Regions from separate parts of the Homo sapiens genome. Here region 1 is linked to region 2. The links come from fine-mapping of genetic effects on gene expression. A gene starts in region 2. The other region holds a variant in brackets. All regions are shown on one strand. Distances are between the middles of the regions. Region 1 overlaps TMEM69 (transmembrane protein 69). Region 2 holds the start of IPP (intracisternal A particle-promoted polypeptide).

Evidence for each region. PIP is the estimated chance that this variant, and not a neighbour inherited with it, causes the effect.
Region 1: its variant is fine-mapped to the expression of IPP in whole blood (INTERVAL, PIP above 0.99).

What each region holds. Positions count from the first base shown.
Region 1 is chr1:45,693,712-45,708,997 of GRCh38, forward strand. It overlaps TMEM69 (transmembrane protein 69), which reads left to right. Exons shown (of 3, transcript NM_016486.4): 3 at 1-725. The coding sequence ends at 194. IPP (intracisternal A particle-promoted polypeptide) reads right to left here. Exons shown (of 9, transcript NM_005897.3): 9 at 5,000-6,479. The coding sequence ends at 6,255. Among named protein-coding and RNA genes, the nearest start is that of TMEM69, 13 kb to the left of the region's middle. The variant C/CT (reference allele first, on the strand shown) is at 5,006.
Region 2 is chr1:45,743,362-45,759,042 of GRCh38, forward strand. IPP (intracisternal A particle-promoted polypeptide) reads right to left here and starts at 7,292. Exons shown (of 9, transcript NM_005897.3): 1 at 7,236-7,292; 2 at 2,759-3,100. The coding sequence starts at 3,050. It overlaps LOC105378693 (a long non-coding RNA gene), which reads left to right and starts at 7,588. Exons shown (of 3, transcript XR_947290.2): 1 at 7,588-7,887; 2 at 11,204-11,380. RefSeq lists a silencer at 7,133-7,402.

The sequences.
Region 1 (15,286 bases), 50 kb before region 2:
AAGCCATAGTCACAGTAATAATGGGTATGGGAGTAGCATTCCACCTTGAACTTTTTCTCTTACCACATTATCCCAACTGGTTTAAAGCCCTGAGGATAGTAGTCACTTTATTGGCCACTTTTTCATTTATAATCACTTTAGTAGTTAAAAGTAGTTTTCCAGAAAAAGGACATAAGAGACCTGGTCAAGTATAAAAAATATAAAAGTCTGGGAAGTGAGGAGCACCTCTGCCCAGCTGCTGCCCCGTCTGGGAAGTGAGGAGCGCCTCTGCCTGGCCGCCTGACCATCTGGGAAGTGTGACAAGCGCCTCTGCCCGGCCGCTGTGCAACCTTCCACGTGTGAAGTGACAGCCTTGTGTGTGATCTTTTCTGTCTTCCCCAAGTTTGCATTTTCGACATTAAAGTTTACTTTTTAGTTAAAAGTTTTAAAAATATATATATATAAATACACTGTAGATAACATTTGTATGCCAGCTACACCTTTTTCTACTTCTGTTTGGCTTTTTTTCCCCACACCAATGGTAATTTATCTTCACAGATTGTTCTTCATTTCTAGAAATTGTTACTTCATGGTAATTACTTGAGCAAAAGCTTGAAAATCCCTGACAAGTACTTTTCATCTCATAGTATATTAGTTTTCACTCAGTCATTTTATGAATAATATAGTTATCCACTTAAACATTTCAATATTTTAACCATCTTGAAAATTAAAGATTAAAAATCCCCTTTGTTAGAGTCTTGTGATCATTGAAAAGAATGCACATATTCTCCCACTTCAAGCGGAAAACCTCGTATCTGTGAGTATCTGAAAAGAAAAGGTAGTTCCATTGAGTTTTCACAGGAGTTACCACTGGGAAAGGCATGTCCAAACTTATTTCACATGGTATAACCCAATTATATGAGCTAAAAGGATCTATGGCTCTAAAGTCAGTAGGGAGCAGTGTCATGAGGGAAAGCCACATTCAAAGGTAAGTTGGACATGTTTTCCAGTTTTTATTAGGATATTTGGCATGGTACAGATAACAACTTGTCCCTTACCACCAAACACATAATAGCTGGTCAAAATGATTATTTTCAAAGGAAACTATTTAAAATAAAGCCACTAGTACATATAAATTAGGAAAGAAAAGTCAAGCTGGAGCCATCTTGATATTCTAATGAGCAGGCCTATCTAGTTCTACATCTTTTTTTTTGAGATGGAGTTTCATTCTGTCGCCTAGGCTGGAGTGCAGTGGCACGATCTTGGCTCACCGCAACCTCCACCTCCCGAGTTCAAGCGATTCTCCTGCCTCAGCATCTCTAGAGTAGCTGGGATTATAGGCACGTGCCACCATGCCCAACTAATTTTTTGGTGTGTATTTTTAGTAGAGGTGGCATTTCACCATGTTGGACAGGCTGGTCTAGTTCTACATCTTTTAAATCACAGAGAAGCTTTTAGCTTTGGTGTGTTTTTGTTTTTGTTTTGTTTTGTTTAAACGCAGGGTCTCACTCTTGCTCAGGCCAGAGTGTAGTGGTGTGGTCATGGCTCACTGCAGCCTCGACCTCCTGGGCTCAAGCAATTCTCCCACCTCAGCCTCCTGAGTAGCTGGGACTACAGTTGTGCACCACTATGCCAAGCTAATTTTTTAATTTTTTGTAGAGACAGGGTCTCCCTATGTTGCCCAGGCTGGTCTTGAACTGAGCTCAAGCAATCCTCCTGCCTAGGCTCCCAAAGTGTTAGGATTGCAGGCGTGAGCCACTGCACCCAGTGCAGAAGCTTTCTTAAAACAGCAAAAGCAACACCTTAGATTTTCACTTGAAAACGTAGTCTCTAATCACTCTACTTAAGGTGGAGAAAAAAAGAATTAACAGAAAACCTAGTTTTCTGAAATTCCTAGTCTCACCAAAAAGGAAAAACATTAAAAATGGTCTAAGGATTAAAAATGGTCTAAGGATATAGATCAGGATATAGTATAACCTGGAATTTTTTTTTTTTTTAGATGGAGTTTCACTCTTGTTGCCCAGGCTGGAGTGCAATGGCGCTATCTCGGCTCACCGCAACCTCCGCCTCCCGTGTTGAAGCGATTCTCCTGCCTCAGCCTCCCGAGTACCTGGGATTACAGGCATGCGCCACCATGCCCAGCTAATTTTGTATTTTTAGTAGAGACAGGGTTTCTCCATGTTGGTCAGGCTGGTCTCAAACTCCCAACTTCAGGTGACCCACCCACCTTGGCCTCCCAAAATTCTGGGATTACAGACATGAGCCACCGTGCCCGGCCTGTATATTTTTTAGAGATGATGTTTCCACTCAGTCTCAATCTGATTCTACTCAGATTGTTTTGATAAGGAAACTCACTTCTTTGTTATTAAATTGCATGAATGCTATACAAATTTAAGACTTTTCCATAATCTGAATTAAATGAATTATTTTCCAGAATAGAGGCAAATCATATTTTTAGGCTAATTGCCTAATTTTACTTAAAAATGCTATTTTTCCAGGTGAATTACAGTGTATGCTTCTTTAAGAAAACTGATTTTTAAGTACATTTGATTAAGTACATTGGCAGGATACTTAGAAGCATATCGGATTGTTAAACATTTTGGAGGTAGATCACTTTAATCATTTCTCAAAAAACAGAATTAAATGTAAAATGAAATGTGCAAGTCCTTAAAGTTAAAACAAAACCAACTAAAAAACTTGTGCAATCCTACTACAGTTTGGTAACCCAGAATGCCACTGATAAAGTAATACAAAGAAACAAAAAAACTAGATACTTTATTAGTACATTCTTTTAAAAACAATCTTGTTAGCCTGGTGAGGTGGCTCATGCCTGTAATCCCAGCACTTTGGGAGGCCAAGGCAGGCAGATCACCTGAGGTCGGGAGTTCGAGTCAAGCGTGACCAAGATGGAGAAACCCCACCTCTACAAAAAATACAAAATTAGCTGGGCCTCGTGGTTCATGCCTGCAATCCCAGCTACTCAGGAGACTGAGGCGGGAGAATCGCTTGAACCCGGGCGGCAAAGGTTGCGGTGAGCCAAGATCATGCTATTGCACTCCAGTCTGGGCAACAAGAGCGAAACTCCATCTCAAAACAAAAACAAAAACAAAACCAATCTTGTCATTACCTAGGAATAATAAGCATATTTACAGTCACCTATTTTCAGGGATCTTCGGGACCTGTTAAAACACTGACTGCCTTGACATTACATTTCTGCCACAGCTGTGCAAAGCACACCCCTTCAAAGTGTCATTTTCAGTTGCTACTAGACAATGAGAAATTAGTTGTAGAAGTATTTTGTAAATCTGTTTTGAATCAGAATACAGATTCTCTGTAACTAGAAATAGTAAAGGCACATGAGTTATAGCTTAGTCTATAAATTATCTTTATTCTTTGACATCTTACAGATCTCTACACAGACATCTGTGACCCTTCAGACGTTCAGGATGCCCCAGAGAAGGGAACATAGAGCTTCCTGTCTGCATTACATAAACTTTTCCTAATAAATGCATATGGTTAAGTTATAAGGAAGGTATAGTTGTAGACTAAACCAAATATTTTTTGTTTTATTTTTTTTTGAGACAAAGTCTTGCTCTATGGCCCAGGCTAGAACACAGTGGTATGATCTCAGCTCACTACAACCTCCACCTCCTGGATTCAAGTGATTCTCCTGCCTCAGCCTCCTCAGCAGCTGGGATTACAGGCATGTACCACCACCTGCTGCCAATTTTTTGTATTTTTAGTAGAGACGGGGTTTCACCATGTTGGCAAGACTGGTCTTGAACTCCTGACCTCAAGTGATCTGCCCACCTCAGTCTCCCAAAGTGCTAGGATTACAGGCATAAGCCACGGTGCCCGGCCTAAACCAAATAATTTGGATATGAGTGCTACCTAATTCATTAATGCAATTAAAAGTTTTCTATCTAAATAAGTTGATGATGCTTATAGTAATATACTGAAGGACCTTAGCAAAGAAATGGGAAATCGGCAGAGTGCGGTGGCTCACACCTATAGTCCCAGCACTTTGGGAGGCCAAGGTGGGCAGATCACAAGGTCAGGAGTTCAACACCAGCCTGGCCAACATGGTGAAACTCCGTCTCTACTAAAGATACAAAAAATTAGCCAGGCATGGTGGCTCACGTCTGTAATCCCAGTTACTCGGGAGGCTGAGGCGGGAGAATCGTTTGAACCAGGGAGGCAGAGGTTGCAGTGAGCTGAGATCACACCATTGCACTCCAGCCTGAGTGACAGGGCAAGACTCCATCTAAAAAAAAAAAAAAGAAACGGGAAATCAAATCCTTAAGTCAACTAGTTAAATTTTACTGTATGCAGCCGGGCACGCTGGCCCATGCCTGTAATCCCAGCACTTCAGGAGGCCAAGGCAGGTGGATCACCTGAGGTCAGGAGTTCGAGACCAGCCTGGCCAACATGGTGAAACCCCATACAGAAAAATTAGCTAGGCATGGTGGTGGGCGCCTGTAATCCCAGCTACTTGGGAGGCTGAGGCAGGAGAATCGCTTGAATCCGGGAGGCGGAGGTTGCAGTGAGCCGAGATCACGCCTTTGCACTCCAGCCTGGGCAACAAGAGCAAAATTCCATCTCAAAAAAAAATTTTTTTTACTGTATGCAAGACCTTTAATATATATTGCTCCAACTGGCCAGTAGAAATAACTTAAAAGTAACCGCATCATACACCCAGTAAATCTTTCTCTTAGAAATGAACAGAGAACAATTCTTTAGAATGCTTCTCAGGGAGAAAATGAGAAGTTTTGAGAAGCAGTTTTGTTTGGGTCAAGGGGTACTTTCAAATTACACTTATGAGTCAGTATCTATAAAAAGTTTCAGAAGTACCTACAATTTAGCCCTCTACATCCAAGCAGTAGCTTTGCAGTATGCTCTTACTTAGGTTTGCCCAAGTACAAATAAATTTTACAAAGCTTGATAATCTAATAAAATTCCCTCTTCCTAAAGCCAAACAGATAATTTTGGTGACAACAATCTAGCAAAAAAGGAAGAATTTTTTTTT[C/CT]TTTTTTTTTTTTTTTTTTTGAGACAGGTTCTCATGCTGTCACCCAGGCCGGTGTGCAGTGGCACAATCTTGGCTCACTGCAGCCTTGACCTCCTGGGCTCAAGTGATCCTGCAACCTCAGCCTCCCAAGCAGATGGGACCACAGGTACAAGCCACAACGCCCGGCTAATTTTTATATATTTTTTGGTAGAGACGGAGTCTCATCACGTTGCCCAGGCTAGTCTCGAACTCCTGAGTTCAAGCCATCTTCCCGTCTCACCTCGGCCTCTCAAAGTGCTGGGATTACAGGTGTGAGCCACCATGCCCAGCCTAAAAAAGGGAGAAATTTCTAGGTGCATACTGCCTGCTGGACTGTATAGCCCATTACAACATCTGGTCACTAAGAACCTCCTATTAATTCCTTACTTGCATTCTCAGGATCAAGACAAAAAATATGAGCAAGCAAAAACTTATCATCAAGCAAAAAGGTATCTATCTATTAAAATAGCTAGATATTTCCCAAACACCCCTCCTAGGATATCTGCTGCCAATAAAAAGTTTGGGGCTAGTGAAAACTCTTGGCATTAAATAAAAGTAGGAATCTATTTCATTGGCTTTCTCTGTGGCTCAAACTATGGCCATGGAAAATTATGCTCTGGATATAATTGTGAATATAGAGGTCTTTAAACTGTGTCATTGACACTATTCCTATATCACATAAAGTTTTATGTTACAATTTATACTGCACTGGAGAAGTAGCTAAAGGGACTATTTGCCAGGAAGCTTCTAGTAAATAATTTCTACAAATTTGTAAAATAGGAGTTGTCTACACTTAAACTGGAGAATTCTACAGCATAAATGGCATTTCTATTATTAGTAAACCTGGCAAATCTGTGTGAGCTCTTTATTAATTGGGATATATTCCATATCCATTCTCACTCATATTTTTAGAAAAATCATTCTTGAGTTTATTTTTTTTCTTTAAGAGACAGGATCTCATTCTGTTGCCCAGAGTGGAGTGCAGTGGCATGATCGTAGCTTACTACAACCTCAAATTCCTGGGCTCAAGTGATCCTTCTGCCTCAGCCTTCCAAAGTGCTGGGATTATAGGCATGAGGCCACTGCGCCCAGCCTCGTTAGTCATTTATCTACCAAATACATGGAAAACTCACAGAATCAGAGGGTCTTATCACCAAATCTATGTTTGCTTTGCAAAAGGTCAGGTCCTGCATTTTCAAAATGTTCCTTGTGCTCTGTTATGCTTTATATTTCATAGCACAGCAACGCCCCCTTCACAACGACTGGTGATCATGTTACCAATTTCTGTCCATGTATCTGAATGAGGGTTATAAACTTCAACTGAGTCCAAGGTACCTGGAGCCAAAAAATCATGGCTGGAAGATCGACCTCCAGAAACATACAGAAGACCATTGACTGCCACAACACACATGCCTGCTCTAGGCACTTTCATTGAGGCAACTTCAACCCACTTTTCCTGGTTAAGAGAGAAAAAAAAAATATGTTAGCAGTGTTATGAAATGATAGTAAAGAAATCCACTGAGAAATTCGATATCCCAGTTCTTTTTACATGTTTAAATGTAAAACTATCTAGTCAGGTAAGCATACAGATTTTTTTTTCTTTTTTTTGCTTTGTTTTTTCCTTGGAGACAGGGTCTCGCTCTGTCACCCAGGCTGGAATGCACAGCAACGATCTCGGCTCAGCGCAGCCTCAACCTCCCAGACTCAAGAGCTCCTCTTGCCTCAGCCTCCTGAGTAGGTAGGACTACAGGTGTACACCACCACACCTAGCTAATTTTTCTATTGTAGAGATGGAATTTCACCATGTTGTCCAGGATGGTCTTAAACTCCTAAACTCAAGTGATTGTCCCACCTCAGCCTCCCACAGTGCTAGGATTACAGGTGTAAGCCACAGCACCCGGCCCAGAATATTTTAAAATAAACTTGAAGTGGGCATGAACAAAGTAAATTTAGAGGAATATAATTTTTTAAAAGGTCTGATTATAAAACATGATCAGGAAATGACCTAGAACTCATACACAGGACAACATTCTAAGAAACAAAGTCTATGGAATACAAGTAGGTAATACACTCAAAAATAAGCAAATAAAAACAAAAGAACCACAAAGCTCCAAGGAGAAAGAAGCTTATAAACCAAAGGATTTTTTAAAAGCCTTTAGTATTTTAATGAGTCTTAAAAATGTCCAAGAGAATGACACAGCATGGAACACCTGACAAATTTATTTGACCATGGAATCCTTTTTACAAGGAGCATCCAGTGGAGTTAGTAATCTGCAGAACATATTTTCAAAAAGGTGGGCTAACCAGGGGTTGGGAACTATAGTCTACTTTGGTATAGCCTGAGAACAAACAATGATTTTCCCATATTAAAAGGTATTTTTTAAAAAAAGACAAAGCATATATCAAAAAAGGATATTGTGTATGGCCCACAGGCCAAAAATATTTACTATCTGGGCTTTTACACAAAAAGTTTGCTAACTCCTGTTATACATCATTCCCTGAAGAAATTTCAATGTGCTGCTATAGCCAAAATGACTAGTAGTGTCTTACTTTTTTTTTTGTTTTTTTTTGAGACGGAGTCTCGCTCTTGTTGCCCAGGCTGGAGTGCAATGGTGTGATCTTGGCTCACTGCAACCTCTGTCTCCCAGGTTCAAGCGATTCTCCTGCCTCAGCCTCCTGAGTAGCTGGGATTACAGGAACCCGCCACCACGCCTGGCTAATTTTTAGTATTTTTGGTAGAGACAGTTTCACCGTGTTGGCCAGGCTGGTCTCAAACTCCTGACCTCAAGTGATCCACCCGCCTTGGCCTCCCAAAGTGCTGGGATTACAGGCGTGAGCCACCGCACCCAGCGACTAGTAGTGTCTTACTTGAGGGAAAACGTCCATACTCAGAAAACAAGAAAGCTACTAAAGGTCCTAAGAAGTAATTAGGAGAGCAAAGAGCAAGTGGCCAGGTAATGGGAGAACAGATTATCAATCTTTAAATAAAGCATATGATGAACAAAGTTTTTTTAATCATAAATAGTGAAGACTGATTATTCATCAATGCTAGAAAGTAAATTTTTGAGGACAGGGACTTGAGCTTCTCATCCCAGTACCCACATAGGTACTAGGATAGTGCCATCATATTATAAACAGTTAGTGTATGTTTGCTGATGTGAACTTAAATAAGATTATGAAATACTAAACCAGGGACAATTCTTTGAAAGTGAAGGACTAGATTAAATTTGAAAGCTATTTGATCATCTGAAATTACACAGCACATCACAAAACTGACACAACTGAAAAATACTTACATTTTAAAATATAAATACATTCTCAAGAAGATCCATTTCTGGTTAAGATAAATTAGGATAATTTAGGTTATGTTTGTAATTAGGGAGAACCTTTGCTCTCCCACAAAATGCCCCTTGACAATAACAAAGGGACCTTAGGGCTCATCCTATATTGTTCTTCTTTCATTTCTACCAGTGTATTAGAACTACAGTTTAATTTTTAAATTTTTATTACTTTATTTTTGATTTAATTGACATGTTCTCATCTAATATAATTTGCTTTTTATCCCATGTTACCTCAAAAAAAAAAAAACTCTGTAAGAACACTAACAAGTTTTACATTATCTTTTCTGGATTTGTAACACAAATTGTTAGTAGGTAGTCAATAACAATAAAATTTCATATGCATAAAAAACAAGGTAACACATTGTCGTTGTTGTTGTTGTTATTATTATTATCATTTGAGACGGAGTCTCACTCTGTCGCCCAGGCTGGAGTGCAGTGACATGATCTTGGCTCACTGCAACCTCTGCCTCCTGGGTTGGAGCAATTCTCCTGCTTCAGCCTCCCAAGTAGCTAGGATTACAGGTGTGCACCACCACTCCCAGCTAATTTTTGTATTTTTAGTAGAGACAGGGTTTTACCATGTTGGCCAGGCTGGTCTTGAACTCCTGATCTCAGGTGATCCACCCACCTCAGCCTCCCAAAGTGCTGTGATTACAGGCATGAGCCACTGCACCCGACCATTAACAATTATTGATAAGACTTAATTTGAAACTAAAATCTATTCATTTCAAAGCCATATAGAAAAATTAGCAACAGAAAGTGCCCTCAAAAAGTTCACTTTCTATATTAGATAAACTCAAATAGGATCATGGAGAAAGGAATTTGAAATGTCACCAAAGTTTAAAACTTGTCAGAAATGAGAATCAAAATCCTTATGCTTTACAACAAGACATGAAAGTCCATTCTTGCCACTTCAACATTGTACTGGAGGTTCTAGCTAGGGTAATGAGGGGAAAACAATGAAAAAAAATGCATCTAGTTTTAATCCAGATTTAAGAAGTAAAACAATCTTTTTTGTTCGTTTGTTTTAAAGACAAGGTCTCACTCTGTGGCCCAGGCTGGAGTGCCGTGGTGCAATCATGACTTACTGCATCCTTGACCTTCCTGGGCTCAGGTGATCCTCCCACCTCAGCCTCCTGAGGAGCTGGGACTACAGGCGTGCACTACCACACCTGGCTAATTTTCACATTTTTTATAGGACAGGGTTTTCACCATGTTGCCCAGGCTAGTCTTGAACTCCTGGGCTCAAGTGATCTACCCACCTTGGCCTCCCAAAGTGCTGGGATTACAGGTGTGAGCCACTGCACCTGGCCAAAAGTTCTGAAGGTTTTACTAACCATAAGTGACATTAAAAACCATAAAATTCAAATAAGACTAAACCTTATTTCTCAAAATTTGTTCCCTGAAACACTTCCACAAGATATTCTGCAAATATCCACAGAACAAAGCAAGGGTGGTTATGTTCAAGTGAATTTGAGAGACTTGACATAAAGATTCATAAAGTACATTATTGTACTAAATTCTGTAAAGAAGTCCTGTGGTAAAGAAACTAATTTAACCTGGTTTAACCCAGATTTCCTTGAATATAGTTGACCAGGGAAACTCAAGTTACTCAATTCCTATTAACAGTGCAAAAAATTAGTATTCCATGGAAATTAATTCGGAAAAAGCTGGCCTAACCTGTAAGTCTAGGGCATAACACACTTTGTACTTCACTTTCCCAGCACTTAACACATTGTAACATAACTGACTATTTATTTCTCGTATTCCTCAATGCAATGTAGCCTCCTTGAGAGCAGTGGCTGTATATGTTGAGTTTGTTCTTGTTTCTGCCTGGCATGGTGTCTGATCCATACTTACATACTAAGAAGTCTGTATTTGTGAATGAATAAATGAGCTAATGAACAAATACATGACAGAACAGTGACTCAGTGAAGATGCAACCTCCTGTCTCCTACCTTTCTCTTCTCTTCTCTTACTATAAGCATAATTGTGTCAACCCAGGAACTGAGGGAATGAGGGAACCCTGGGGAATTCACCTAGGCAGTGACTGGATGGGTCACTGGAGATGTTAGATGGAGAAGACAGCTGGTATGGTAAGAAAATTGGCTTCATTTAGCAAATAAGTAAATTGAATGAAATATTGAGGATAATGGAAGCAAAGTCTTTTTTTTTTTTTTGAGACAGAGCCTCGCTCTGTCACGCAGGCTGGAGTGCAGTGGCGTGATCTTGGCTCACTGCAGCCTCGGCTTCCTGGGTTCAAGCGATTCTCCTGCCTCAGCCTCCAGAGTAGCTGGGATTATAGGCGCCTGCCACCACGCCCAGCTAACTTTTGTAATTTTAGTAGAGATGGGGTTTCACCATGTTGGCCAAGCTGGTCTTGAACTCCTGACCTAGCAATCCACCCGCCTCGGCCTCCCCAAGTGCTGGGATTACCGGCGTGAGACACCGCGCCCGGCGGAAGCAAAGTCTTTAACTGACAGAAAAGGTATTTACAACATGGAAAGGGAGAAGGCCTGAAAAAACCTGGTGTACTAGAATTGGAGCTATCATTATGAATTCATGGTTTTACAATATAACTGCACAAATAGATATAGAAATATTTACAGATGAATATGTGTGTGAAAACCTGTTTACATACATACATTTCCTAGCTCTGTTTACTGAGGGTGGCTATGAGGTAGAAGGTGGTGAATCAACTCCAGACAAGATTGAAGACTAGCTGAAACAGGGAAGAGGCGAAAGCAACTCTCTGTAAGACACACCCACCAGTGCCCTGTCAGTTTACCATTGCCAGTGGCAACACCCAGAAGTTACTGTCCTTTCCATGGCAACAACCCAGAAGTACCACCCTTTTTCTAGAAAATTCTGAATAACCCACCACTTAATTTGCACATAATTAAAAGTAGGTATAAATGACTGCAGAACTGCCTCTGAGCTGCTACTCTCAACACACTGTCTATGGAGTAGCCCCGCTCTGCAGAAGTAGTTACAGAGCTGTAACACTGCCACCTCAATAAGGTTGTTTTCTTCTACCACCAGCTTGCTCTTAAATTCCATCCTGAGCAAGGCCAAGAACATTCCTGGGCTAAGCCCAATTTGGGGCTCTCCTGCCCTGCTACAGCTAGAAGCAGCAACATCCAAGTAGCATTTAGTACTCTAAGTGTGTACATCTTGGTTTCTAAATACTGTCCTTCACCAAAAGGAAATAAGGCTTCTTGAAGAAATGGCTGATTCCAGGGCTAAAGCAGAAAAAGTATAAGATAAACTGAAAATATTTCTGCCGGAAAATAAAGAAATGCTGAATGAATGACAGTAATGTATCAAAAGGACACAGGAGGGATTTCCATTTCCAGACATAATAGATCAATTGTTACCAAACTTGCCCTCTGACCCTAAAGACCTAGAAAACTAGATAAAACATGAAACAAAACTTTTAGGCATTAGGCCAGGTGCGGTGATGGCTCACGCCTGTAATCCCAGCACTTTGGGAGGCTGAGGTGGGCAGATCACTTGAGGTCAGGAGTTTGAGACCAGCTGGCCAACATGGCAAAACCCTGTCTCTACTAAAAATACAAAAATTAGCTGGGCGTGGTGGTGCGCACCTGTAATCTCAGCTACCTGGGAGGCTGAGGCACAAGAATCACTCGAACCCAGGAAGTGGAGGCTGCAGTGAGCCAAGACTGCCCCACTGCACTCCAGCCTGGGAGACAGAGTGAGACATCGTCTCAACAAACAAACAAACAAACAAACAAAAAACCTCTCAGATATTAGATAACAGGCAATGTAAAACTGTAATCCCTGAGAAAATGAAACAAAGTAAACACAGCCACCTAGACTTTATGCCTGGAGGGGCTTTTTGAAAACAGGTACGCAGAAGGGGATCTCAAGCAGTGCATGATAGTCAGCTGATACAGGAGACAGAGATCAGAGTTTGGTACAGTATACAGGTCCCCTTCAGTCTTTGACTGAATACTACTAATCTATGCATGCTAAGGTGAGATTCCGTGGGTACAGGCAAAGGACAACTAATGGGAGGAGTTGTAAGCTGAGTAATTCCTAGAGCTCACACAAGGCTATGAGATATTTGAGTTCTGACCAACCAAAGTGAAGATAATTTGTTGAACACCTGGGGCAATCAGCAGAGACCCAAAAAGAGTCATGCTTTAGTAATAGGGATAAACTAGATCTAAAGGAAGGGCTACTCTAGACCTTCCCTACAAAGCCTTAAAACAAGTCTCAAGCTGGGTACCATGGCATGTATCTGTAGTCCCAGCTTACTTGGAAGGCTAAATTGGGAGGATTACTTAAGTCCGGGAGTTTGCGTCTAGCCTGGACAATACAGCAAGATCTCATCTCTGAAAAAAATTTTTTAATAATTTTTTTTTTCCAAGATGGAGTTTCACTCTTGTTGCCCAGGCTGGAGTGCAATTGCGTGATCCCAGCTCACTGCAACCTCTGCCTTCCAGGTTGAAACGATTCTCCTCCCTCAGCCCCCCAAGTAGCTGGGATTACAGGCATGCACCAACCTGCCCAGCTAATTTTGTATTTTATTAGTAGAGACAGGGTTTCACCATGTTGGCCAGGCTGATCTCGAACTCCTTACCTCAGTGATCCACCCATCTTGGCCTCCCAAAGTGCTGGGATTATAGGTGTGAGCCACTGCACCCAGCCTAAATAATTTTTTTAAGTCTCAAAAATATCAGTCTGATTTGCAAATAATTGAATTATTTAACAAAACAAAATTCAACACTTAAAAGAAGAAAACAAAATCCAAATACTCAGCAGCATAATATTTACAATGTCTACCATCTAATCAAAAGTTAATAGAAATGTGGAGAAGCCAGAAAAAATGTTACTCAAACCAGGAATTTAAAAAGTCAACAAGGCACCATAGTGCATGTCTGTAGTACTAGTTACTCAGGAGGCTGAAGCAGAAAGACCACTTGAGCTTAGGAGTTTGATGCCACCCTGAGCAACACAGCAAAACCTTGTCTCTAAAATTTTACAAGTCAACAGATACATATCCAAACATGACAGAGATGATGAAATTAGAAAAGACTTTAGGCTGGGCACAGTGGCTTACGCCTGTAATCCCAGCACTTTCGGAGGCCGAGGCGGGTGGATCATGAGGTCAGGAGATCGAGACCATCCTGGCTAACACGGTGAAACCCCATCTCTACTAAAAATACAAAAAATTAGCCAGGCGTGGTGGTGGGCGCCTGTAGTCCCAGCTACTTGGGAGGTTGAGGCAGGAGAATGGCGTGAACCTGGGAGGCGGAGCTTGCAATGAGCCAAGATCGCGCCACTGCACTCCAGCCTGGGTGACAGAGCAAGACTCCATATCAAAAAAAAAAAAAAAAAAAAGACATGACTTTAAAACTAATATTATTAATTGTTTGGGGAGCTAAAGGAAAATATGAACATGATGAGGAGAGAAACAGAAGACATAAGAAAACAGATCTTCTAGAGCTAAAAAATACAATATCTAAAATGAAAAATTCCATAGATGGGATTGGACACTGCGAACTAGAAGTTTGGATACTCTAAAGGATTAATAAACTTGAAGACAGAGCAAAACAAACTAGACAAACTGAAGCATAGAGAGAAAAGAGTGGGAAAAACTTAGCAGAGCCTCAATGGCTGTGGGACAATATTGGGTGGTCTTACATATATATATATAATTGGAATCCCAGAAAGACAAGAGAATATTTGAAAAAATATGGCAGAAAACATTCCAACTTGATTAAAGCTATAATCCCACAGATTCAAGAAGTTCAATGAATTCCAAAAAGGTTAAACAAAAATAACAAGGCACATCATAATCAAATTACTGAAGACCCATGATGAGGAGAAAATCTTAAAAGCTGCGGAAGAAAAAACACGTTACATATGGAGGAACAAAGACAAAAATTACTACTGACTACTTGTCAGAAAAAAATCTAAGAGGAAATTAAAAAACATCTTCAGGGTGATTATTTTATTTTATTTTTACTTTTTTTTTTTTGAGATGGAGTCTCACTCTGTCGCCCAGGCTGGAGTGCAGTGGCATGATCACAGCTCACTGCAAGCTCCACCTCCCAGGTTCATGCCATTCTCCTGCCTCAGCCTCCCAAGTGGCTAGGACTACAGACGCCAGCCACCACGCCCAGCTCATTTTTTGTACTTTTAGCAGAGACAGGGTTTCACTGTGTTAGCCAGGATGCTCTCAATCTCCTGACCTCCTGATCTGCCCGCCTCGGCCTCCCAAAGTGCTGGAGTAACAGGCGTGAGCCACCGCGCCCAGCCCAGGGTGATTAAAGATAAAAAAAAGCAACCTAGGGCCAGGCGCGGTGGCTCACATCTGTAATCCCAGCACTTTGGGAGGCCGAGGCAGGTGGATTACCTGAGGCCAGGAGTTCAAGACCAGCCTGGCCAACATGGTGAAACCCCGTCTTTAGGAATAACACAAAAATTAACCAAGTGTGGTGGTACACACCTGTAATACCAGCTACTCAGGAGGCTGAGGCAGGAGAATCACTTGAACCTGGGAGGCAGACATTGCAGTGAGCCAAAATCGCACCACTGCACTCCAGCCTGGGTGATGAGAGTGAAACTCACCTCCAAAAAAAAAAAAAAAAAAAAGCAACCTAACATTCTATACCCAGCAAACTATCTTTCAAAAATGAAGGAGAGTCTGAACGCGGTGGCTCATGCCTGTAATCCCAGCACTTTGGGAGGCCAAGGCAGGTAGATCACCTGAAGCCAGTAGTTCGAGACCAGCCTGGCCAACATGGCAAAACCCTGTCTCTACTAAAACAATACAAAAATTAGCTGGGCGTGGTGGTGGGTACCTGTAATCTCAGCTACTTGGGAGGCTGAGGCAGGAGAACTGCTTGAACCCGAGAGGCAGAGGTTGTAGTGATCCGAGCTCGTGCCGCTG
Region 2 (15,681 bases):
TGAGTAGCTGGGACTACAGGTGTGCGCCACTAAGCCCAGCAAGACTCCGCCTCAAAAAAAAAAAAATTAGCCAGGTGTGGTAGCATGTGCGCCTGTAGTCTCAGCTACTAGGGAGGCTGAGGTGGGAGGATTGCTTGAGCCTAGGAGTTTGAGACCAGTCTGGGCAACATAGCTAGACATAATCTCTACAAAAAAAATTTAAAAATTAGCCAGGCATGGTGGTGTGTGTTGTGGTCCTACAGGTACTCAGGAGGCTGAGGTGGGAGGATAGCTTGAGCCCTGGAGGTCAAGCTGCAATGATTTTGCCACTGCATTCCAGCGTGGGTGACAAAGCAAGACTCTGTCTCACAAAATAAAAAATAAAAGAGGCTGGGCACAGTGGCTCTCCCCTGTAATCCCAGAACTTTAGGAAGCTGAGGTGAGTGGATCACTTGAGGTCAGGAGTTTGAGACCAGCCGGGCCAACATGGTGAAAACCCGTCTCTACTAAAAAAAAAAATACAAAAATTAGCTGGGCATGTTAGTGCAAGCCTATAATCCCAGCTACTTGGGAGGCTGAAGCAGGAGAATCGCTTGAAACTGGGAGGCAGACGTTGCAGTGAGCCAAGATTGTGCCACTATACTCCAGCCTGGGCGACAAAGTGAAACCCCGTCACCAAAAAAAAAAAAAAGAGTAATATATATTCACTGTGGAAAAAGAACTTTAAGACAGAAAAACTAAAATGAAAAACATATTTTTCCATACACAGACATACATTGTATTAACACTGTAGTGTCTTTCTTCACATAGTTTTTCTCTCTCTCTTTTTGAGACAGTGTCTTGTTCTGTTGCCCAGGCTGGAGTGCAGTAGCATGATCATCACTCACTGAAGCCGCAGCATCCTGGGCTCAAGTGATCATCCCATCTCAGCCTTTCAAATCTTTTTTCTATGCATATTTATTGCATATCCTGTAAGACTATACATCGTTTTGGTGTGCCTTCTCTTTCTTTCCCCTTCCCCTACTCCCCTCTTCATCATTCCAGTTGTTTTATTTTATTCAGAGATGGGGTCTCACTCTGTCTCCCAGTCCAGGGTGCAGCAGCTTGATCATAGCTCACTGCAGCCTCAAACTCCTGGATCCTCCCACATCAGCCTCCCGTTAGCTGGGACTAAAGACACAAGCCACACACCCAGCTAATTAAAAAAAATTTTTTTTTGGCTAGGCGTAGTGGCTCACGCCTGCAATCCCAGTACTTTGGGAGGCCGAGGCAGGTGGATCACGAAGTCAAGAGATCGAGACCATCCTGGCCAACATGGTGAAACCCCGTCTATACTAAAAATATAAAAATTAGCTGGGCATGGTGGCACGTGCCTGTAGTCCCAGCTACTCGGGAGGCTGAGGCAGGAGAATCACTTGAACCTGGGAGGCGGAGGTTGCAGTGAGCCGAGACCACGCCACTACACTCCAGCCTGGTGACAGAGCGAGACTCTGTCTCAAAAAAAAAAAAAAATTTTTTTTTAGCCTGGGCAATGTAGTGAGACCCTGTCTCTACAAAAAATTTGTTTTACATTAGTCAGGCATGGTGGCACATACCTGTAGTCACAGCTATGCAGGGTGGTGAGATGGTAGCACTACTTGAGCCCAGGAGATTAAGGCTGCATTGAAGTGTGAGTGCACCACCACACTCCAGCCTAGACAACAGAGAGAGACCCTGTCTCAAACAAAATTTTTTTTGTTTTAGAAATGGGGTCTTGCTATGTTGTCCTGCATAGTCTTGAGCTCCTGGCCTCAAGCAATCCTCTCACATTGGCCTCCCGAAGTGCTGGGATTACAGGCATGAACCACTGTGCCCCTGTGTACATTCTCTAATGTTATTAAAACTCTTCAAAAACATTTAAGAGATAGTTTTGAGTAAAATAACATATGCTGATTATAAACACTTTGTGGAAAAAAATTACCTACAGATAAATGCTATCAAACATTCTGGCTGCTTTCTCATGTGTAAATACATATAAGTTTTTTTGGGTTGTGTTTCAAACAAAATAGGGGTTTATTTATATCCTGATTTTTAAAATTTTATATATTGTAAACATTCTTCCATAATAGTATACATATATTTTAAGATTTGTTAGATCTCATTTGTGAGATCTATACATGTATCATAATTTATTTAGCCATAAAACCTACTGAGACAAGATTTTATTCAATTATATACTACTATAAATAAAGTCACAGGCCAGGCGCAGTGGCTCACGCCTGTAATCCCAGCACTTTGGGAGGCCAAGGCGGGCGGATCATGAGGTCAGGAGATCGAGACAATCCTGGCTAACACAGTGAAATCCTGTCTCTACTAAAAATTAAAAAAAAAAAAAAATTAGCCAGGTGTGGTGGCATGCGCCTGTGTCCCAGCTACTCAGGAGGCTGAGGCAGGAGAATCGCTTGAACCTGGGAGGCAGAGGTTGCCATGAGCCAAGATCGCCCCACTGCACTCCAGCTTGGGCGACAGAGAGAGACTCCATCTCAAAAAAAGAATAAAATAAAATAATAATAATAATGTTACAATAAAATCCTGGTTTGTAAATATGTGCCTGCATCACTAATTAATTCCTTCAGATTCCTAGAAAAGGAGCACCGGGTCATAAGATATGAATTTTCAGTCACATAATAACATGTTGCTAAATTACCTTCTAGATAAGTTAGATCAATTTATATTTCCACATTAGTGCATGAGTGATTGAATCATTCTTCAGTCAAAGCAACAGACTCATGTAACATACCTGTGTAAATGAAATCTAGAAGTATCTGAAAGATTCCTGCTTCAATTCCTAGAATCGGTACAACATCTTTTGAGGACTCTTTCATTCCTCCAGTGAACAAAGCTGCAAAGTAAGGACTGCTGGCAGCCAAAACCAGCCGATGAGCTTTAAAACTTTCCTGTCCAACTTGCAGCTGCACATCACAGAAATGCTGTCCATTTCTCATCTTATTGATTTGGGCCAAGATGAGTTGGGCATGTTTATCTGATGAAAAAGGACTATCAGCAGCCTTGGGACAGTCCTCATTAGCCATGATGACGGTAGATTAATTAAAAGGACTGTTGCCCATAATCTGTTACTACCCTGAAAAACAAAATACAAAGAGATCAAGCAACAAAATTTTTTTAACATGCTTTCTATTCACACATAAGAAGCATTCTCTATACTTAAAATCTACTTAAGGACATAAAACAAATAAGGACTAAAGTGTGGTACTATTACTATTTCTAATATGGTTTCAGAGAATGAAATAAGTAGGGAAGCTAAAATAATTGGAGAATGCTTCACACAAGAAATGGGACCTGCACTAGAAACTGAAAGATAAACAGTTAATATTAAGGTATGAGGAGAGGACACTTCTTGATGGAGTAAAAAAAATAATAATAAAACACAAAGACAGAAAGTTAACAAAGCACACATCACAGAGCACACATCACAGACAACAGCAACTTTCGAAAAGCAGTTGTGATCAGTCTAACTGCTTAAAATCATTCAATGTGTACACTTCCCGTAGCACACAAAGCCCTTCGGGATTCTTGTTATAATTTAAGACTCTGTTCAAATATAACTTCCTCCAGGAACCTTTCCCCATTGCTCCTCTGGAATTGTGGAAATATGTTCCCAAACTCATCTGAGTTTGTTGCTCACCCTAAGCTTATTGGTTTTACATTCTATAGCACAGGTCTACCTTATCAAATACCCTACCACCCTACTCTTAGTGCGCGCATGCGCGCGCACACGAGCGCGCGCGCGCGCTTCAGAGCTCCTTGAAACACAGCCCTTTAAAGGCAGGTACTATCTTTCATAGCTTTAGCACCAGTATATAACATATGTTAGGTTTCCAATGTTTGTGAAATGAATGAGAACAAGGAGAAATAACAACAGCTTAGGTTGGGTTTTTTTTTTAACTTTTAACTTCTCCACATATTATGTCAATGGTAACTCTCACAATAATTAAGAGGTGAGAAGAAAAGATAATCTTATCTAAAATGAGAGAAAAGGAAACTGAAGCTCAAAGTTTCCCCAAGGATACAATGTTAGTATGACAGTCTCAGTATCTGAATCCAGGCCTTCTTACTCTAAATCCAGGACTGTTCCACCATATCACACTGCATAGGAATTATTAGGCCACCGGACACGTTCTAAATTACTTTTTAAATAAAGAAACTGCTGGGCACAGTGGCTCACGCCTGTAATCCCAGCACGTTGGGATGCTGAGGCGTGAGGATCACTTGAATCCAGGAGTTCGAGACCAACCTGACCAACATGACAAAACCCCGTCTCTTCTAAAAATATAAAAATTAGCCAGGCGTGGTGGATCAGGGCTATAATCCCAGCTACTTGGGAGGCTGAGGCACAAGAATCACCTGAGCCCAGGAGATGGAGGTTGCAGTGAGCTGAGATCACACCACTGCCCTCCGCTCTCCAGCCTGGGTAACAGAGCAAGACTCTGTCTCAAAAAAAAAAAAAAAAAAAAAAAAAAAAAAAAACCATGAGATCCTGTAATATAAGACATATGGAATAGCACAGGGAAATTTAAGATGACTAAGATTTTGTAATTTAGGTATCAATGACAATGGGTAATAAGACTTATAGTGTGGGCTGATGTTAGAAAAAAAATGGTTACGTTTATAGCATTTAAACTTATCAAAGTCAAAATAACAAGGCTGATTATCATCACTTTCTAGGAATTAACTTATTGAGAAATTTGATTGAGAGATTCGAAGGTAGCTGCTAAAACTTCATATCACCATCTACAGAATATCAACATATTACATATAACTAGCATATAATAGCAAGAAGTGTTTGAGGTGATGAATATGGTAATTACCCTGATTTGATAATTATACATTATATACATGTATCAAAATATCACACTGTACCTCATAAATGTAAATATAAAACAATTATTATGTGCCAATTTAAAAAATATCTATTTTGGGGGACAGGGTCTCACTCTGTCACCCAAATTGAAGTGAAAAATAAATTTTTTAAAGAGGGTGAAAGGGGCTGGGCACAGTGGCTCATACCTGTAAGCCCAGATTTTTAGGAGGCTGAGGCAGGCAGATCGCTTGAGTCCAGGAGTTTGAGACCAGTCTGGGCAACATGGCTAAACCCTGTCTCTACTAAAAATACAAAAAAATTAGCCAGGCATGATAGCACAGGCCTGTAGTCCCAGCTACTCAGGGGAGGCTGAGGTGGGAGGACCACCTGAGCCAGGGAAGTCCAGGCTGCAGTGAGCTGAGATGGTGCCACTGCACTCCAGCCTGGACAACAGAGCAAGACCGTGTCTCAACAACAACAACAACAAAAAGCAGGTGCGGTGACTCACGCCTTTAATCCCAGCACTTTGGAAGGCTGAGGCGGGTGGATCACCAGAGGTCAGGCGTTCAGGACCAGCCTGGCCAACATGGTGACCCCATCTCTACTAAAAAATACAAAAAATTACCCAGTCATGGTGGTGGGCGCCTGTAATCCCAGTGACGTGGGCGGCTGAGGCAGGAGAATCGCTTGAACCTGGGAGGCAGAGGTTGCAGTGAGTGGAGATGGAGCCACTGCATTCCAGCCTGGGCAACAGAGAGACTCCGTCTCAAAAAAAAAAAAGGAAAAAAAGGGGGTGGGGGCGGAGAAACCATGTATTTGGCCCTACACAGAAATGTGACCTGGAACTATTATCAACATGACATGACTGTCAGGCCTTTTCTGTTTTACATTTCTGTCAGCACATTTTGAACCCTAGTGGTTTAATTACAAGGTACCTCCTCTGTCCCCTACTTCAAGGCATCAAGCACAGCCACTGAGCTAAAATGCTGCCTCCTGCTACAAGAAAGAGTTGACTGAATATCCATTCGGGTGGCAGACAACAGAAATACTAGTCTGTTACCATGCTTCTCAGTAACTGCTGATACCATCCCACTGTCAGTGGAGTAGGAACGTCATCCCAAAAGGTGGCATGTGGAGTGACCATATTTCCAAAGGAAAAGAGCACAATTCTGTGACGTTGCATGCCTCACGTGCCCCAAACTTGAAAAGCAGATTGTTGACTGGGCAAGGTGGCTCACACCTATAACCCCAGCACTTTGGGATGTCCTGTCGGGAGGATCGCTTGATTTTTTGTTTTTTTTTTTTGTTTTGTTTTTGTTTTTTGTTTTTTTTTTTTTGAGACGGAGTCTCGCTCTGTCGCCCAGGCTGGAGTGCAGTGGCACGATCTCGGCTCACTGCAAGCTCCGCCTCCCGGGTTCACGCCATTCTCCTGCCTCAGCCTCCCGAGCAGCTGGGACTACAGGCGCCCGCCACCACGCCCGGCTAATTTTTTGCATTTTTAGTAGAGACGGGGTTTCACCGTGTTAGCCAGGATGGTCTCGATCTCCTGACCTCGTGATCCGCCCGCCTCGGCCTCCCAAAGTGCTGGGATTACAGGCGTGAGCCACCGCGCCCGGCCAGGGAGGATCGCTTGAGTCCTAGAGTTCAAGACCAGCCTGGGCAATACAGCGAGCCCCCCGCCGCAAAAAAAATTGTTTTAACATTAGCTGGCTGTGATGGGGCAAGCCTGTACTTCCGGCTACTTGGGAGGCTGAGGTGAGAGGATCGCTAGAGCCTGAGAAGTCGAGGCTGCAGTGAGTTGTGATCGCACCACTGCATTCCAGCCTAGGAGAAGGGGCGAGACTGTCTCAAAAAAAAAAGCAGATTATTAGGAAACGGTAGAAATGCCCAGAGGAACTAAAGCGGACCTATGTTTGCTGGCTTTGAATTCACTGCTGGGAACATGTGGAAACTGCTTCAGCAAAGGGGTGTCAGAAAGAATCCCCGGAACAAGTGTCAAAACACCCGTGGTTCTTTGTGCTTGAGTTGGGGGCCCGGCCTAGAGAGCTAGCCCTAAACTGCTGCTACACTAAAAGCTAATAATCGTTCCTGCGCTACCTAAAGGTCAGGGAAGGGATCTCAGACAAACGAGGCGACAACAGAGGGACTGGGGACACAGCCTCAGGATTCCCCAGTTGGGGCGGGGGAGGCAGGAGCGGTCCGGACGAGAAGGTCTGGGGAGGGCGACACTTAGACTGTCGGAGGAAGGCCTGCGGCGGCAGAAGGAAAGACAAGGAAATACACAGTTCTAGAGGCTTCTCTCACTCCAGTCCTCAGGGGTCCGGAAAGCCGGAGGGAGTAGAAGAGGAAGTTCCCAACCCCGTCACAGACGCGCCCGAACGCAGGCCCTCCTTACCCGCCGCTTCCCCTTCCCTCCGGCGCCCGCTCAGGCCCTGCGCGCGCAGTCGCGACCAGCCCCGGCCGGAGAGGGCGGGGGAAACCTGGCGGGGGTGACGAGGCGGGAGTGACTGGGCCGTACAGTTCCCCGAGAACTGGAGGCGAAGCCGGGCGGTGGGAAGGGACTTCGGACGCTTCGCGGGCCCTGGGTTTTCACTGCGCGTGCGCGAGGTTCTTCCGCTCGCGGGAGACTGGGCCGCTGGCGCCTCTCAGTGCCCACTGATGGGGCCCAGGGCTTGGGCTTGCTTCCCCAAGGATCAACAGCTTAGCTGCAAGCCTCTGCTTCTGCCTGCTGGGGCCGGCTGGCTCGCCCTTTCCATTCCGCTTGCACTCTGATTCTTGTGGTGTCCCAAGAAGGCCGCGGATCTCAGTTAAGCAGAGACGAGCCGAACACCTGGCACGGTCCTTCTCTACTGTTCTCTCGAATCGTTTTCTGAGTGCATGACTGAGCCTGGCACTGAAGGGATACTTATTTTGGGGAAGGAAGAACTCAAAAGTCCAGTTTTTTTCACTGTTGACCCTCATGTGTCACATTAGTGGCTTTCAAACTGTTTTGATCCCAGCCTACGGTGAACAAAAATATTTTACATCAAACTCAATACCACATACTTGTGAGTATATATATAGAAGTATATATCTAACATAAAATCTCATTTCTTTATTTTTATTTTTATTTTTTATTTTTTGAGACGGAATTTCGCTCTTGTTGCCCAGGCTAGAATGAATGCAATGGCCGGATCTCGGCTCACCGCAACCTCCGCCTCCTGGGTTCAAGCGATTCTCCTGCCTCAGCCTCTCAAGTAGCTGGGATTGCAGGCATGCGCCACCATGCCCGGCTAATTTTGTATTTTTAGTACAGACTGAGTTTCTCCATGTTGGTCAGGCTGGTCTCAAACTCCCCACCTCAGGTGATCCGCCCGACTCGGCCTCCCAAAGTGTATTTCTTTCTCTTTTTATGAGACAGGGCCTGGCTTTGTCGCCCAGGCTGGAGTGCAGTGGTGCCATCTCGGCTCACTGCAGCCTCGACTTCCTGGGCTCTGGTAGTCCTCCCACCTCAGCCTCCTGAGTAGCTGGGACTACAGGCCTGTGCCACCACCGCCAGGCTAATTTTTTGTATTTTTAGTAGAGACAAGATTTCGCCATGTTGACCAGGCTGGTCTCCAACTCCTGGGCTCGAGTGATCCGCCCGCCTCGGCCTCCCAAAGTGCTGGGAGGTGTGAGCCACTGTGCCTGGCCTGAAACAAAATCTTCACAAAACTATGTTTACACTTACGACCCGCAGTGCACTAAATTTTTATTTCTTCTTTTCTACTTCATTACCAAAAACTGCTAACAGGGACCTATTGTCAGCAAACATTGTCAAAGACTTGGAAATGAGGAAAAGAGAATTCTGTGTGCCCTTTCAGTGTAAGGCTGGACGGATTTGCATCCATAGGGAGCTCTGACTTTCTATTGACTAAAGTATTTCACCAGAAAACTGGTAGTACTTAAAATAATTCTTGCCCGTCTGTAGAAAAGATACACCAAAACATTGTTTTATTGACCTGTAGCATATTAAGCCATTTTTACCCTTCTCAGCAAATTCATTTAAACATTCCTGATTCTTAGCAAATTCATGCTACATTCCTAAATATCTTACTGGCTCCCTTATAAGTTAATGAGATAAATAAAATATTTGATACTTTTTTTTTATATTTGTAAGAGAGTCATGGTTTTACTCTTCAGAAAATTATACTTCAGCACTACTAAAATCAATTTCATGACTTACTCTGGATTACACTTGTGAAAGTTAAGCATACAGATTGGGCCATTCTTCTCATACCCACCGAAAATGGTGGGAGGGGAAACACTGAGGGCACATTTCATTGCTCAAAGAATGTAATTCTCTGCAACCCTGTCTGCTGAAACTGCCTGTTGTAACCTGAAACCAGTTTTACCCAATAGCTATTGAAACAAACTGCCATGACTCAAAGACTAGTTTGGTTTTTTGGTGGTTTTTGTTGTTGTTGTTGGTTGTTGTTTTGTTTTTGACAGGGTCTCTCTCCCTGTCACCCAGGCTGAAGTGCAGTGGTGTGATTGGGGCGGGGCTCACTGCAGCCTTGACTTCCTGGGCTCAATCAATCCTCCCACTTTAGCTTCCCAAATAGTTGGAACTACAGCTGCATACCAGCAAGCCCAGTTAATTTTTGTCTTTTTTGTAGAGACAGGGTTTCATCATGTTGCCAGGCTGGCCTTGAACTCCCAGGCTTAAGTGATCCACTCACCTAAACCTCCCAAAGTCCTGGGATTACAGGCTTGAGCCACTGAGCCCAGCCTCAAAGGACTAGTTTTACCCACTGCAGTCACTCACCAATCAGAGCTTGCCAGCAACCTAAAACTTTCCTAGTGCCAATGAACTTTCTTTCAAAGCCATATGTAACATTTCTCCTTTTTGTAAAACCTCAAAGTGAACCAAAGAACACCCAGTCTGTGTATATGCTTTGAATTGCAATTCTTGCCTCCCAAATAAAATGTTAACTTTAGAATTGCTTGGACCTGGGAGGCAGAGATTGCAGTGAACTGAGATCATGCCACTGCACTCCAGCCTGGGCAAAACAGCAAGACTTTGTCTCAAAAAAAAAAAAATGCTTATAGGCTGCTATAGACTAAATTGTGTCCTCCCCATAATTTACATGTTGAAGCCCTAGCCTCCAATGTAATGGTATTTGGAGCTACCACAGTGAGGCAGTGGGATGCGTCTCCCCATAAAAGATAATCGCTAGCCCCTCCCGAAGGAGAACAGGATCCCAGACGAGCCCCCAAATTTATTGGAAACAAGTGCTTGGCGTAGCCAAAAGAAACCCACACTTAGACAGAAAATTTCTCAGTAAGGCACCTTTACTTCTGCAGGATGGTGCTGCTTGCGCCTGTTAAAATCACAAGAGCACACCAAACAAAGGAGGGAAGGAGTTTTTAATCCTAATGCAGTTCCTGTTTTTGTGTCCTTCCCCTATTGACTGGGGTTGGACTGCACAATCTAAGCTGATCCTGATTGGCTAAGACTTAAACTTTTCCAAATATGGTAAACGCACAATTTGCAAAAAGAAGAAGAAGGGGGGCAGGTAGGATTGATTTACAACTTTTACAACTTACGAGCGGAAAGTTGAGTCTTTGAAGAGGCACTTAGTTGTCCCAACAATTTCCCCTCTTCTGTTCTATAGCTCTTCCTCTTCAGATTTCTTCAACAGGATTTGGCTTTGTTGTTCTTCTTGATTATCTAGGAGCAAGAACTTATCTGAGTACAGAGGGGGAGACGTAGGGGAGGATTTTGTGAGAGCTGCTTCTATGAGCCTTTGGGTTAACCCACGAATATAGGGTATGATACAGCAGCCCACAAGGATGAGTACACCTGTAACAATTGCAAGGGAGGTAATGATTGAGGTCATGAGTCCTTTCCATTTTCCAAACCACCTTTCCATCAGGCCCATAAAGGGATCTTCTATTCCAGAGTTTTCGGCTAATTCATTTGCTGGGGTGGTAAGGCCTTGTAAGGTTTTTGAGATTGTCCCATCGGGTGGTGTATTATTAGGGATAAAAGTACAACACTGGACCCCAATCATGACACAGACTCCGCCTTTTTTGGCTAACATCATGTCAAGCGCTATTCTATTTTCCCAGGCCATCTGGCTGGTAGGGCCTAATTGTTCAGCTATTCCTTTTATGGCATCTCTGGTATAATTGATGAATCGCTGCTGATTGTAGTATATATAATTTATCCAGTCTACATTTTTATTTATAGTGTACCACCAGAATAAGATACACTCGATCCCAGCAGCTATTTGGTTTCAAGTGTTGAATTCATTTGGTACCCCCGGCAGGACCCCAATGCTGTCTATGTAAACGTGGGGGTCAAAGGACCCGTTAATTGGGACTTCTCTTTTTCTTCAGGTTACCTGCTTCCTGTCTGGTTGATGAAATGCCAAGGTGAAAGGGATGGCCAATTGGATCAGAGCGCAAGTGCCACTCCAGTCGTTTGGCAGTGTACCCAATATTGGTCCCCCACAATACCACCACACATCCACTCAGGGATGGATAGGGCCGACTGACTGAAAAAAGTTTGAAAAAGTTTAGTGTCACTACATCCTATTATGTTTCCAAGGAATGTCAAATTTTCCCCTTGCCATGAGAGACATGAGGTAAAATTGGCATCAAGAGCTGGAAGTTGAATGGCCCTTGGGGGCTGTCCCATAGGGCTCCTGACCTTTGGGAAAAGTAAGAGTGGCACATGACTTGTTTCCTCAAGCTGTGGGGTGCTAGAAGAGAGCTACCATACAGTCCATGCCGGGTTGGTTGGCCCATCCGAGTGGGAGGGGAACAATTTGGATTTCTGGCCTGCCCGTTGCACAAGCATAACAATCGCTTTTATTTAGTGTGTCAACAGAATATTTAATCCATTTCAGCCAGGCATTTACATCTTGATACCCGGTTTCTATGGCTATGGTTTGGTTTAAGTCCTTGACTTCTACTCTAGCTACTTTGGTTTTGTCATTGGGCATGAAGAGAGAAATGGTTTGATTTTGTGGGTTTGGGGAGGGCGTAATGGTGGAAGATGGAGGAGGAGGAACAAAGTGCGTTTCGAAGAAGCCTATAGGGTCCTTTCCAGTGACATCTGCTCCTAGGCCATAAAAGCACTCTAAAGTGGGTGTAGGGCTGGTGGAGGTAGGGGTATTAATAAAGATAAGTACTGGGTTGCAATGGTAAGATTGGCAACTAGAGAGGGTGGTTCCTTTGATGAAGTGGAGGTAGGATTTAGGGCGGTGCAACCCTCTGAGGAGGTCCAGCCCTGATACTTAGTAGTCCATATAACATCTCCCCAAGTATAGCAAAACCATCAATGCTAAGTTCGTGCCCATTCAGTGCAAGAGTTAGTTTTGTAGGCAGTGTAATTTATCCTAGAGGGACAAAGGTACTTTTCTGAAGAGGCTAGCTATCTTTGACTTTGGAGATCCCCACAGGGCATGACAAGACAGGCATTGAATATAATTGTTTGGGGGGAGGGTGATTGGGTTACACTGATGATTAGATGTCCTTGGGTAGCTAAAGGCAGAAGAAAAAGACAGATTAAACCCTTTTGAATGTTAGTTTGGAGACTGTAGGTCCTGGAGTGAAAGTCCATGACTCTCCAAGGGGTGGGGCCTTTTTTACTCAAGTGTTGTGGGTCCATCCTTTTTCAGCCGTTGGGATTGCTGTTTCAGTGGTTAGGAGTACTAGATAAGGTCCCTCCCAGGTTGGTTTGAGCTTTCCCTCTTTCCAACTTTTGATAAGGACGTGATCTCCGGGCTGGTGTTGGTGAACTGGGAATTCGAGGGGTGGAGTTTGCGCTAGGAGGCCTTGAGTCCTGAGGGAGGAAAGGGTGGAAGACAGACCAAGTATATAGTTTTTGAGAAGCTGACCTTTTGTTTCAAATGTGGGAAGGTCAGTAGTGGAATTTAGATAAGGCAGCCCGCAGAGCATTTCATAAGGGGACAGGCCAAGATCTTTTCAAGGGACAGTTTGGATTCTTAGTAAGGCCATGGGAAGGCATTTTGTCCATGGTAACTGGGTTTCCGAGATTAATTTGGTTAGGTGATTTTTTTTTTTTTGAGACAGAGTCTCACTCTGTTGGCCAGGCTGGAGTGCAGTGGCACGATCTCGGCTCACTGTAACCTCTGTCTCCCAGTCTCAAGCAATTCTTCTTGCCTCAGCCTCCTGAGAAGCTGGGATTACACCGCACCTGGCCTGGTTAGGTGATTTTTTAGAGTTTGATTCATTCTTTCTACCCTCCCTGATGAGGGGAAGTGCCAGGGAGTATGATATTCCCATTTTATTCCTGTTGCTTGGGTTAGCCCCTTAATGATGTGTGCAGTAAAGTGGGTCCCATTGTCTGAATCAATGTTCTCTGTTAGTCCAAACCTGGGTGATATGTTCCAACAGGGCTTTGACTACATTGCTGGCTATTGTGCTTGGGAAGGGGATGGCTTCTACCCAGTGGATGCTAGTCTACTATGACTAGCAAATACTTGAGACAGCCTATTGGGGGCATTTCAGTGTGGTCAACTTGGACGCTTTAGAACGGCCTCAGCCCTGGGTTTCTTCCCCCGGGAGGCTTGCCTCTTTAGGGTTTGCTTATTAGTTTTTCTGCACACTATGCAACCATCCGCCACTTTATCGAGGGTATATATCCCTATACACCCATAGACCCTAAGGGCTGCATTGCATATAGCTCGAGGACCCCAGTGAGTTCCTTGATAAAGCTGTGACAATACTTCCCTCATGAGGGGTTTAGACAGCATTTCCCTTCCATCTGTTAGTACCCACTTGCCCTTTGGGCTCTCCTTAGCTCCTGTTTTCTTTAGTTTCTCTTGGTCTGCGTGGGAGAAGATGGGGATTGCAGCTGGAGGGGGAAGAGAAGAAGTTAGATGGAAAATGGGTGACACTTGGGAAGAGGCAGCTTGCTTAGCTACTTGATCTGCGAGGTTATTTCCCCAGCTTTCAAAAGATGAGTTCTTTTGGTGTTGGTGTTGTGGGACATGGACAACCGCAATCTCTTCCGGCAGCTGAAGATTTTCTAATACTTGCATAATTAATTCCTTGGGGACCAAATCTTGGCCCTTACTATCGATGAGGCCTTGTTCAATCCAGATCTTTCCAAAGGTATGGACTACTCAGAAGGCATACTTGGAGTCAATGTAAATAGTTCCTTCCTGATTCTGCAGGTATTTTAAGGCTTGGTTTAATGCAAAGAGTTAACATGCTTGGGCAAACCAGTTATTTGGCAGTCTTCCTGACTCTACCTCTGTGAGGGTTTCCCCACCAACTATGGAGTACCCGTTGTGCCTTTTTGCTTCAATGACCTAGGAGGAGCCATCTATAAAGAGATGACCCTCTATTTGGAAAGGGGTTTCACTTAGATCCACTCTGACTCTAGTTTGATAACTGATTAAATCTAAGCATTTATGCTCAGGTTCTTCCTGGTTTGGATTTCCTGTTAGGAAAGCAGTGGGGTTGAGTGAATTGTCAGTGGTTAGTGTTAGGTTATCCCTCTCTAATAAGATAGCTTCATATTTTAAAATTCTTGAGTCAATGAGCCATCTCCCTGCCTTCTGATTAAGAACGGTTCTCACTTGATGAGGGACACTTATGATGAGGTTTCCTCCAAAGGTTATTTTCCTGCTTTCTTCTGTTAGCAAGGGAGTTGCTGCTATGGATTGGACACATTCGGGCCATCCACAGGTTACTGGGTCAAGGATTTTTGACAGGAAGGCTATGGGCTGCCCGTGGCCTCCGTGTTTTTGGGTGAGTACCCCTAAGGCCACTCCTTTGCTTACATTAACAAAAAGGTGGAATGGCTGTTCTAAGGAGGGCAAGGCTAGAATGGGGGCAGTTACAAGCAGGTGTTTTAATTATTTTACCTATTGGATCTCTGATAGGGTCCAAAGGAGCAGGTCTGCTCCTTCTTGAGTGAGTTTTTATATAGGGGCTTTGTTTTTAAGGCATAAGAGTCAATCCACAGATGGCAATATCTGACCAATCCTAAGAATTTCCTAAGTTCCTGCTTTGTTTCAGGTAAAGGCAAAGATATGATATCTTCAATTCGTTTGGGCTCTATCTTTTGCTTACCTTTGCTGATTAGGTGTCCTAGATATTTTACCTCAGGTCCTACGACTTGAAGTTTGTTCTTTGAGACCTGTAACCCTTGTTCCCTCAGGAAATTTAGGAAGTTAACTGAAATTGCTGTTACTTGATCCTTGTTATCTCCTGAAATGAGCAGGTCATCTACATATTGGCATATGGATGAAGGCAGGGAGAAGTTTCCAAGACTTGTTCTAAAATTTGACCAAATAGATTTGGGGACTTTGTAAACCCTTGGGGCAAGACTGTCCATTGGTACTGCTGTTTTTGACCGGAGTGAGGGTCCTCCCACTCACAGGCAAACATGTCCTGGCTGTCCTCTGCTAAAAGGCAAGCGCAAAAGGCATCTTTTAAATCTACCACCGTGAACCGCTGGTGGTTGTGAGGGATTCTACTGACATTGGTGTAAGGATTGGGAACAACAGTGTGGGTGGTCTGAACTATTTGATTAATAGCCCGGAGATCTTGCACTAGCCAGTATGACCCGTCTGGCTTCCTTACAGTGTTATAAGGGGACATACAGGGTTTAAGGAGTCCGTCATGGACAAGGCTTTCAATTAGAGGTTTTAAACCTATCCTGGCTTCCAAGGGAATAGGGTATTGTTCTCTTCTCACTACTTCCCCAGGAGTTTTTAATTTGACATGGATTAGAGTAACCCGTAGCTTTCCTCGATTTCCTTCCTTCGACCATATGTTGGGATGGATGTGGCTTTCTTCTGAAGTGGTGAGCAGGTTTAAGGAAGTAAGGAGCTTTT